Linked DNA regions of Homo sapiens: region 1 is linked to region 2. Evidence: fine-mapped expression QTL. A gene starts in region 2. The other region holds a variant in brackets. All regions are shown on one strand. Distances are between the middles of the regions. Region 1 has its middle 27 kb from the start of IL12B. Region 2 holds the start of UBLCP1 (ubiquitin like domain containing CTD phosphatase 1).

Region 1 (5,384 bases), 40 kb before region 2:
GCCTTTTGGAGGATCTGAGAAGGAAAGGTCTCCCTACCCAAAAAGTCCAGAAAGGGAAAACATTTTCCAATCAGCCATGATTCTGAAACTGACATCTGCCCTCTCTCCACTGTTTAATTAATCTAAACTTGATCTGAGGCTGACTCCATACCTTGAGTCCCTATGTAATGAACTGCATGCAACCTAACTTGGTATGAACTGACTGAAAGCTAATTTAATATATTTTTGTAGCTAATAGCTGAGCCTCAGCAGTAAAACACAGCAGCAAACCTCCAATCAATTATAGGTTACCAACTGATCAGACCATGCTCAAATAAAGCAAACACCTAGCTGTAACCAACCAAGCTGTCTCTGTACCTCACTTCCATTTTCTGTTCATTTGCTGTCAGCCCATATCGGGGAGCAGAGTTCTCTCAACTTCTGCTGGTTCTGAGAGCTGCCCTATTGACAAGTCATTCTTCGCTCAATTAAATTTGGTTAAATTTAACTTATCTAAAGATTTACTTTCAACACTGCACATATACTGTTAGAGACAAGCAGCCTCTCTCTACAAGCGTTGGAATAAATGACTTTCTTATGGTGACTCTGGAGTTTGCAAATGCATTGGTGTGCCTTGGCTTGCAAGCCCTGGCTCGTTAGCACTGATATGCTGCTGTCATAGGAAGCCCAAGGTGTGGCCGACTACGACTTTCCTGTGTAGTCTAGGGTTGCCATTTGTGCTTAATCCAATCCATATCTACTCTCTACAAGCCCTCAGTGTCCCAGATCCTTGTCCACAAACCTGGAGGACCAAGCTGGGGATGGCTGTCCAAGCATGGATCAAGCTGCTTTGCAGACTGCTTTGCAGGGTAATGTTTTGGAACAAACTGTACAGACTTAGTCATGCAAAATGTTATTGTATTGAAGAGGTCAGAATTCAGAGCACACTTGGCTAATCCAGCAACTGAATTTTACTACTACTGACTCTGATGAACAGAAAACAACTCTGCCACCTGTACACAGGCAGTCAACTCTTTCTACCAGAAGAGGAATGGACAGTAAGAGAAGGCAGAACAGGGGGAAGAAATCAAATGGATTTAACTAGATCATCACATAAAAACTGCAAATGTCCTATCATTTTTCAGAAAGATTCAATGTCTGCTTTCAAAGGATTTTACTATATGTATCTTCTTTACACAAGTACATTTTAAAATTTAAGTCCGAGTGATTTCAATTCTGTAAATTTTGAAATTTCACTGAGTAAGAAAAATACTGACTACTGACCCTCAAGAGGCAAGTCTACACAAATAGGCAAATTTGTAAGTTTACTGTTGGGGCTCTGAAAATGATACCCCAAAGTTTGGGGCTTTCATGCAGAGTGCTTTGAACTAAGGGAGAACCAAAAAGCCTCCCTGAACTTCTGCCCTGCTGTCTCTCACCCCTGTTTCAAAAGCACAGGGAAGGGTGGTCTCTGAACTTGCCTCGTCTGCCTAAAGATAGATCTTCCAAAAAGGCACTCAATTGCCATGAGTTTCCTCCCCAGGAATCTCATTAATTAGGAAAAATTAACTGTATCACAGGAGGAGAACAGACTGAAGGTAATTGCCAAGCCCAGACATTATCACAAACTATCACCTGTTCTGAGGGGTGCTCCAAGACAACCTTTATTACTCTGGAGACTGTTTATCTGCATAACAAGACAACTTTTATTCACCATGCATTTCCTCTCCTTTCCCTCCCATAATTTGTGTCATGCCCCACCCCCAAATTAAGCTCCAAGCCCCAATTCCTTTCTGTAGCTCAGGATGCTATATAAACTTTAATCATCTAGCCCTTCTTTGAGTCTCATCTTTTGTGAGATTCCCATGCCTATGCACATAATTAAAATTGTTTTTTCCTGTTAATCTATCTACTGTCTATTTACTTCCCAGACTCAATGATCAAACCTTAAGAGGGTAGAGAGAAAGGTTTTCTCCCTTACATTACATTCCACCTAAGATCCACAAAAAGAGAAAATTTCACTTTTAGGTAATGAAAAAGTTACCCAAAATATAAAAACCCTCATATTTGACTTTACTCTTCTAACTCCGCAAACTGAAGCCACCACTAGCTACTACAATTTGACCACCAAGGTATACATTTTTCTAACAGCTGTAATGAGGTATAGTTCACATACTCTACAAGTGACTCTTTTAAGGTGTCTAATTCAACAGGTTTTATACACTTACAGAGTTGTGCTCCCATCACCACAATAAATTCTGGAATATTTTCAATACCCCAAAAAGAAACACAGCACCCCTTCACCATCAACACCTGATATGGTTTGCATATTTGTCCCTCCAAATCTCATGTTGAAATTTGATCCCCAATGTTGGAAGTGGGACCTGATGAGAGCTGTTTGGGTCATGGGAGTGGAACCCTCATGAATGGCTTGAGCCATCCTCTTGGTGATGAGTGAGTTCTTGCTCTATTAGTTTACGTGACAGCTAATTGTTTAAAGGAGCCTGGGGCCTCTCCCCTCTCTCTCACTTCCTCTCTTGCCATATGATATGCCAGCTCCCTCTTTGCATTCCACCATAACTGTAAGCTCCCTGAGGCCTCACCAGAAGCAGAGCGGATGCTGACACCGTGCTTCCTGAACAGCCGCAGAACTGTGAGCTAAATAAACCTCTCTTCTTTACAAACTACTCAGCCTTAGGTATTC[T/C]TTTATAGTAATGCAAAACAGACTAACACAAATCCCAATCCCAGTATCCCTCCTTCTCTGCATGTTCCTAGGCAACCACAATCTACTTTCTGTCTCTGTGGGTTTGTCTATTCTGGACATTTTATATAAATTGAATTATATAATATGTGGTCCTTTGTGACTTTCTTCTTTTACTTAGCATAATATTTTCAAGGTTCATACATGTTGCAGCATGTATCAGTACTTCATTCCTTTTGTTCCTGAGCAATATTTGATTGCATTGATATGCCACATTTTATTTACCCGTTTATCAATTGATGGACATTTGGGTTGTTTCCAGTTTTTTACTATTATGGCTAATGCTGCTATGAATATTCATGTACCTAAGTGTAATTTTAAATTTAAGTAATTCTTGCCTAAGGCTTAGGATACATCCCCCCCAGAAAATGAGAATAAAGCAAAGTTTTGCAAAGCAGCAAAGCAGAACTTTACTGTATCAGTGATTGCCACTCTTAAGTCACCTTTTCCCATGGAAGATAGTCCTTAACAGCCTGATTTAGGAACATCAAAAGAGGTCCGTCTAAAAATGTTGTGTTAAGCAGATTCAAACATGTTTTGTTTTGTTTTGTTTTGTTTTGTTTTGTTTTGTTTTGTTTTGTTTGAGACCGAGTTTCACTCTTGTTGCCCAGGCTGGAATGCAATGGCGTGATCTCGGCTCACTGCAACCTCCACCTCCAGGGTTCAAGTGATTCTCCTGCCTCATGTTGAATACAGTGAGTTCTAAATTTCTCTTCAAAGAATCAGTATGTCAGTATGTTCAGTTCTTTGTTCTCCATTTTAAAGTTTAACTTCCTCATTCTCCTCGCCCATAGTTTCAGTAAACAACTTTTTCCACCAGTTCTAATCAGCAGTTCACATCTGTTCCCCTGGTCACCTGCTCTGTCCTGAGTCACCCCTGGTCATCTGTTCCATCTGAGTCATCCCTGGTCACCTGCTCTGACCTGAATCATCCTGAGTTCTCTTTTCTGTAACTGCCCTTCCCACCAAACTACTCACCCCGCCACTCCGACTTGTTCTCCTTCTCTCTTTAAAATAGCCAATCAGAATTATCTTAGACTGTGTGGTCCAACCCTAGCCAATAAGGGAACGACATAGCAGTAGGGGCTACCTGTGTCAGGAATAAAAAGCCCTTCCCCTCCCTTGTTCAGGTGTGCTCTCACCATTGCTCCATCCACGAGTCACACTTTTCTATAGAAGTAAAATTGCCTTGCTGAGAAAATTAAATTTATGTTTGAGTGCTATTTCTTTTGTGGCGCCAAAAGTTTATTTATAACACTCAGCTTCCCAAGTAGCTGGAATTACAGGCATGCACCACTGTGCCCAGCTAATTTTGTATTTTTAGTAGAGATAAGGTTTCATCGTGTTGGTCACGCTGGTCTCGAACTCCTGACCTCAAGTGATCCGCCTGCCTTGACCTCCCAAAGTGCTGGAATTACAGACATGAGCCACTACACCCAGCCTCAAACACACATATTTATTGCATGTCTAATGTAGCAGAGAAAAAATAATTTTTTTTCTACTTTTCATGATTTTTAGCTGATACAACTAAAATTCCTATAACAAAAGACAGATTAACCACAGAAAAACAAACATGTATGTCTCATTTATACCACGGGAGATACACAGGGAAAATGAGTAATTCTCTAAGAGGTGGTTTGAATTCCATCTACCGAAACAAAAAAAAGGGAGCGGGGTGGGGAAGGTCCAGCTTTGCCAAGATGGCCAGGCAAAACACCATAAAACAGCATTAGGTTTGTTATGCAGATTTAAGTCAGTGTCTTCTCCATTGGTAGGCATGTATAATGATGTACAGTCATCCTTCTCTTCCTGGTGCAGAGAGGAAAACACCCTTAAATTGGAGATTTCCTTTGTAAATGCAAATTTTCCTTACAAAAGTGTAATTTCTACTCTTGTTTTCAGAGCTTCTCCTAGGTCTGCTGTTTCTTAAAATAATTAGATCAACATAATCCTTATGCTAAAGGAGCATATTTTGGGGTGATATATTCTAGTCCAGTACACTCATATATTGGGGTGATGTGTCTTGAACCTCATCACTAATAAATAAAAAGTGCTATTTGTAGTTGGTAAATAATTGTAAAATATTTTTTAAAAATTTTCTATATATTTTTTGTACCTCTTGGTCTTCCTCTGCATCCCTACCCCCATTCAGTCATTCATTGCCTCAAGGAATAGATAACTCAAAGAATAGCAGAGAACAAAGGCTTTTGGATTTGTTATTGAACTGAACTTGGGTCTGCTCACTTGGCACAGCAAAGCCAAATGCTGACATCAAGATTTGCTGTGAGATAAACAGCTGTAGGTAAACAGCAGCAACAAAAACAAAATAAATTATTCATTAATTATAAAAAAAGATGTTCAATGAGAGAAAGAAAAGGATTTATTGTAGGATACCAAGCAAGGAGAATTGGTCAGATAATGCTTAAGGCCCAAACTCCCCATGGCTTATCAGCAAGAGATTTTAAGGGCAGGGGTACATTTCTGGAAAGCAGAAGTTATAGGCAAAATTGTAAATCAATACATGGAGGTTATACATTGGTTTGGCTCAAAAAGGCAGGAGGATATGTTGAAGCCAGGGCTTATAGGTCATAAATAGATTCAGTGATTCTTTGATTTGCAATTGGTTAAGAAAATAAAGCTGTGT
Region 2 (5,384 bases):
CCAAATCACCTCTTGAGTGCTTTGCTGCTTAGAAATTTCTTCTGCCAGATACCCTAAATCATCTTTCTGAAGTTCAAAGTTCCACAAATCTCTAGGGCAGGGGCAAAATGTTGCCAGTACCTTTGCTAATACATAACAAGAGTCACTTTTACTCCAGTTCCCAACAAGTTCCTCATTTCCATCTGAGACCACCTCAGCCTGGACCTTATGGTTCATATAGCTATCAGAATTTTGGGCAAAGCCATTCAACAAGTCTCTAGGAAGTTCCAAACTTTCCCACATTTTCCTGTCTTCTTCTGAGCCCTCCAAACTGTTCCAACCTCTGCCTGTTACCCAGTTCCAAAGTTGCTTCCACGTTTTCGGGTATCTTTTCAGCAATGCCCCACTCTACTAGTACCAATTTACCGTATTAGTCTGTTTTCATGCTGCTAAGACATACCCAAGGCTGGCCACAGTGGCTCATGCCTGTAATCCCAGAACTTTGGGAGGCTGAGGCAGGTGAATCACCTTAGGTCAGGAGTTCAAGACCAGCCTGGCCAATGTGGTGAAACCCCATCTCTACTAAAAATACAAAAAAAAATTAGCCAGAGGTGGTGGTGGGCGCCTGTAATCCCAGCTACTTACAGTTCCACAATGGCTAGGGAGGCCTCAGAATCATGGCAGAAGGTAAAAAGCACTTCTTACATGGCAGTGGCAAGAGAGAATGAGGAAGACAGAAAAGCGGAAACCCCTGATAAATCCATCAGATCTCATGAGACTTATTCACTTATTCACAAGAATAGCACGGGAAAAATCGGCCCCCATGATTCAATTACCTCCCACTGGGTCCCTCCCACAATAAGTGGGAATTCTGGGAGATACAATTCAAGTTGAGATTTTGGTAGGGACACAGCCAAACCATATCAATCAGAAAATACAAAACCCATGGGTACAGATCTAAGCACACAAAGATTATATAGTGGCTGCCACTCATGTAAATAACCAAACATATGTCTCTTCCTGCATAAAGCTTTCTATTTTTCATTAAACTCATTCCTCCCACAGTCCAGAGAACTGGATTTTCTAATCTCAAGGTATTGGTATTTCCAATGCTTTCACTTATTTGATGAAACATTTGATTGCACTCTTCATGCAACTATTAGGACCAACTGCAAGAAAGAGGTTAAATTTTTAATCTCCACTTCCAAAAATAATTTAAAAACAGTGTCTCCTACTAAAAGGCCAATTAGAAGAGAGAGCCATAAATTCATATTTATATTTACTCATATATGAATACAAATATGAACTATAAATGTATATTTACTCCTATGTTTACAATGTGTTCTACTGAAAATGTAAAGCAAGTGTCTTAATTTAGGGTAACGTATTCCATTTTAGACAGAACTATAACAAATGTTATATTCTTCAATTAAAAGTGGACCTTTTGAGTTAAACTGAAATACAGTTTAAATATTTTCTGTAAGACATAAGAATAAAAGGGAATCCTACGAGAGCTAGAAAGGCAACCAGCACTAATATCGCATATATTGTGATGCGTAGTAGTGCAGAGTTTGGAGTGAAATCATCTGAGTTCCAGGTGACCCTGGACAAGTGATTGCTCTTCTAGACTAGTGGTTTTCAAAGCATGGTCCCTGGGCTAACGAACAGCATTGACCTCACTTGGTAATTTGGTAGAAATGTAATTGGGGTGGAGAGAAGGGACCTAGGAATCTGTGTTTTAACAAGGTCAGTCCTCCTCACCTCTGATGAATGCTCAAATTTGAGAGTCAGTACTACAGGCTCTTCAATGTTTTCAGCCTTAAAAAAAATGTGCCAGAGGGCATGGGCTCTATATGGTTAATAAAGCAGCATAAAAACGTTACGAAGCACCTATCCCACAAGTGGAAATTCCAAGTTGGCAAATGCCTTAAAGGGCCAAGCGAAACAAACACCATAAAAATTGTAAATGCATATGTCTTTAAGATTTGTTTAAAAGTTACTGAACCTTATTTCATCATTAAGACCGTTCACACCAATGAAGCAGTGTGATATAAATGCATGAGCTATTTTGCTTTCACATTTAACCTTCTTTCTTAGTATTTTGTATCATTTCAGATCCCATCAGATTTATAAGCTGAAAAATGATTTGGGGTGTGGGGAGGAGTGAAGTTGGCAAACCCAAACAAGCAAGCAAAGAATACACTTCCATATGGTCAACCTAGGGTCAAGAATAGCTGTTTAGGTTGGAGTTCTACCTAACATACTGTGTTGACTTTGCCTAGTCAATCCACCTCTTGGCCTCAGTCTTCTCAACAAGATGAGGCTACTAATATTCACTGGACAGGAGTAGTGTTAAGGTATGAAGTAACACCTGTGACAGCACTTTGTAAACTGTAAAACACAATACAAATGGTGTTCATGATGGAATAAAAACATGCTAAACAATTATCTCATTGAAGCTTCACAATCCTGAACCAACAGCTGTTGTCCTCATTATACAAATGAGAATCCTGAAAAGAAATTAAACTTGCCCGGGACCACAAACCTAAAAAGTGGCAAATGAAGAAATTTTAAAGTATAGCAGTAAAAGTAACACTTTGGGAATTAACGGGAGGTTAACTTTCAACAATCCCAGCAAAAGATAACCGTGAAGCACTAAGAACTCCGGCGAGAACCGCACACCAGCAACAACTGCGAGGTGGTGCAGGGTCGGGGGCTGTGCTAACTGACTTAGGGGAGCATTAGGAGGCAGGTGGAGGCTCCAGAACCAAAAAGGCCGGGATGCCTTCAACAAGGAGGTTGAGGGGAGGGATGGACAAGCCTGAGAAGACGGAGGAATGAAGTTTGGGGACGCAAAACCCACTGGGAAACAGAAAGCCCTCCAAATAGGCTAGACTGCTGGATGGGAGGACAGCGGCCCCCGCGACTAAGCGGGCCGGGGCTAGGGGCCTGGGCGTCAGACTAGGACAGACACTATCCCCAGCCCGCCGCAGTGCAAGCCACGCCGCGCGGGCCGCAAAGCCACTGTCCCCGAGCCCCAACAGCGTCTCCAAGGGCAGCGCGCCAGGGTGCCCCGCAACCCCTCACCTGGAGCGCGGTGGAACCTGCGGCAGCGGACGCAGAAACCGGCCGCTGAGAGACCGAAAGCGACCGGAAGTGAAGGGCGGGACCGGAACCGGCTGAAAAACCGGAAGTGGGTGGTTTGAAACGGAAATATGTTGGGGACGGAACAACTGCTTCCTTTGAATCTCTTCGGGTGCTAATCAAATGGCCGCTGTAAGGGATCTCCACAAAGCCACGAAGAAGCCAGGCCTTTCCGAGACTGTAACCGCTGTGCAGATAGCGCCGATCCCTGGGTGGCCGCTCTCTCGTTCTGCGCGTGCGCTCGTTCTGGGCTGGGAGCGGATGGGTGCTGAGGCGTGTGACGTCTCTAGTAGTGTCGTAACTGGGTGTGCTGCCTTTTCCAGGTGTACTGAGGTCTTCGTGAGATTCAGGGCTAGGACTCGTGTGGCTGTGTCATGTTCCGAATGAAGCTTAAAAGGTGATCTTTGAGAACTGAAGACTTGAGACCCCTCCATGGGCCCAGGGGCTGCCAACACTAATAATTTCAGAGACTTAGAATCTGAGGAGAATCTCCAATCTAAGGGGAAACGGAAGAGGGTCAGGAAAGAGAAGGGGCAAGCTTAAGTGACTCAGAATCCAAGAAGCAAGTCTCATAGGAGAGCTGCGATCGAGGTTACCATACAGTATCCAATCGTCTCAACCTTCCCATCCATACTTCCATGCTGTCTTTCCTCTGAATGCAAGGAAAACCGGTTACACAAACGCTGACAAAAGAATGTCAGACTTGAATGGAAATTCGGAGCAGTACCCATCTGGTCCATACAGCGAACTCCCAGTGAGCACCACGGCAATGTAACTAATTCATGTTTCCCTCTTGGCAGTGCGGGAAAGGCAGCAAAGAGCCAAGTTTTGTATCTTAACAGTTCTTTAGTTAAGAGGCACACGCTATTTTGCATTCTTCCCTACTTTTGATAATTTTTGGCTGCACTAGTAATGCATGAGTATCTGCTCATTTAAAAAACTCAAACTTTTTCAGTGAAAAGTATGCCCTTTTCTTCAGAAAGTCTTAATTAAAAAAAAAAAAAAAATCATTGCCCAGACCAACATTTTCAAGCATTTTCTCAAATCGTTTTCTTGGAATAGCTGCATAGTTTTGGGTCTTACATTGAAGTTTGGTGCTCATATGTGGGAGCTAAAAAAAAGTTGACTCCATGGAGATAGAGAGTAAAATTGTGGTTACCAGAGGCTGGGAAGGATAAGGAGGGAGAAGGAGATGAAGAGAAGTTAAAAGGAGCGAAAATATGGTTAGACAGAAGGAATAAGTTGTAGCGTTCCACAGCACAGTAGGGTGACTATAGTAATCAATAATTTATTTTGTATTTCAAAATAGAGGAGAAAGGTTGGGATAGTCTCAACACAAATGATAAATGTTGGCCGGGCACAGTGTGGCTCACACCTGTAATCCCAGCACTTTGGGAGGCCAAGACAGGCAGATGACTAGAGGTCAGGAGTTCAAGACCAGCCTGGCCAACATGGTGAAACCCAGTCTTTACTAAAAATAAAAAAAATTAGCTAGGTGTGGTGGCATGTGCCTTTAACCCTAGCTACTCGGGAGGCTGAGGCATGAGAATCACTTGAGCCTGGGAGGTGGAGGTTGTAGTGAGCCAAGATCATGCCACTGCACTCCATCCTGGGTGATAGAGCAAGACTATCTCAAAAAAAAAAAAAAAAAAAAAGAAAAGAAGAACTTTTGCCTCCTGTTGCTCCCTGGAGCCTCTCTTCTAATGTGTGGAGGATAATATACTTGTCCTTCATTCATGCATCTCTGTAGCAGCTAAAGATGCCTGGGAATTCCTCCATAGATTGTCAGGTCTGAGAGTCTAAATAATATATGGAAACAATTTCACAACATCAGATGACAAACTGTTAATATTACTGTGACCACATTTACTTTGGAAGATAAAAGGACATTCCTGCACCTAGGCCAGAAATCCCCCACTACTCTGCTTTTATCTCCATCTCCCCCAGACTTTTTTCTCCCCTTTTCTCTCTCTGGCCATTTTCTTTCTCTAGCAAGTGTGTTCTCTTGCCCAGCTCAGATCTACTCCCCTCAAAAAGCTTTCCCTCTCTTCCCAGTTGGAAGACAATCCTCTTCAAAAATTTAGTTCCCTCTAGAAGTTTGTCTCTCTCTTCTAATACCTACTCCTTTGCCTTTATCTTGCCTGCAGTAAGAGAGCTGAAAATATTTAGAATCTGCCCCACATGACAGAATACAGGTTCTTAATGAAGCATGCCCAGTTACTGCCCTTCTCTATTCAGCATGCTTTCCCCAAACTACTACT

Evidence for each region. PIP is the estimated chance that this variant, and not a neighbour inherited with it, causes the effect. A credible set is the group of variants that fine-mapping cannot tell apart.
Region 1: its variant is the best candidate, but not a certain one, in a credible set for the expression of UBLCP1 in whole blood (INTERVAL, PIP 0.80).

What each region holds. Positions count from the first base shown.
Region 1 is chr5:159,300,660-159,306,043 of GRCh38, reverse strand. No RefSeq gene overlaps it. Among named protein-coding and RNA genes, the nearest start is that of IL12B, 27 kb to the left of the region's middle. RefSeq lists an enhancer at 2,953-4,152. The variant T/C (reference allele first, on the strand shown) is at 2,684.
Region 2 is chr5:159,261,043-159,266,426 of GRCh38, reverse strand. It overlaps UBLCP1 (ubiquitin like domain containing CTD phosphatase 1), which reads right to left and starts at 3,137. Exons shown (of 11, transcript NM_145049.5): 1 at 3,067-3,137. RefSeq lists enhancers at 2,897-3,404, 3,161-3,470, 3,501-3,570, 3,405-3,912.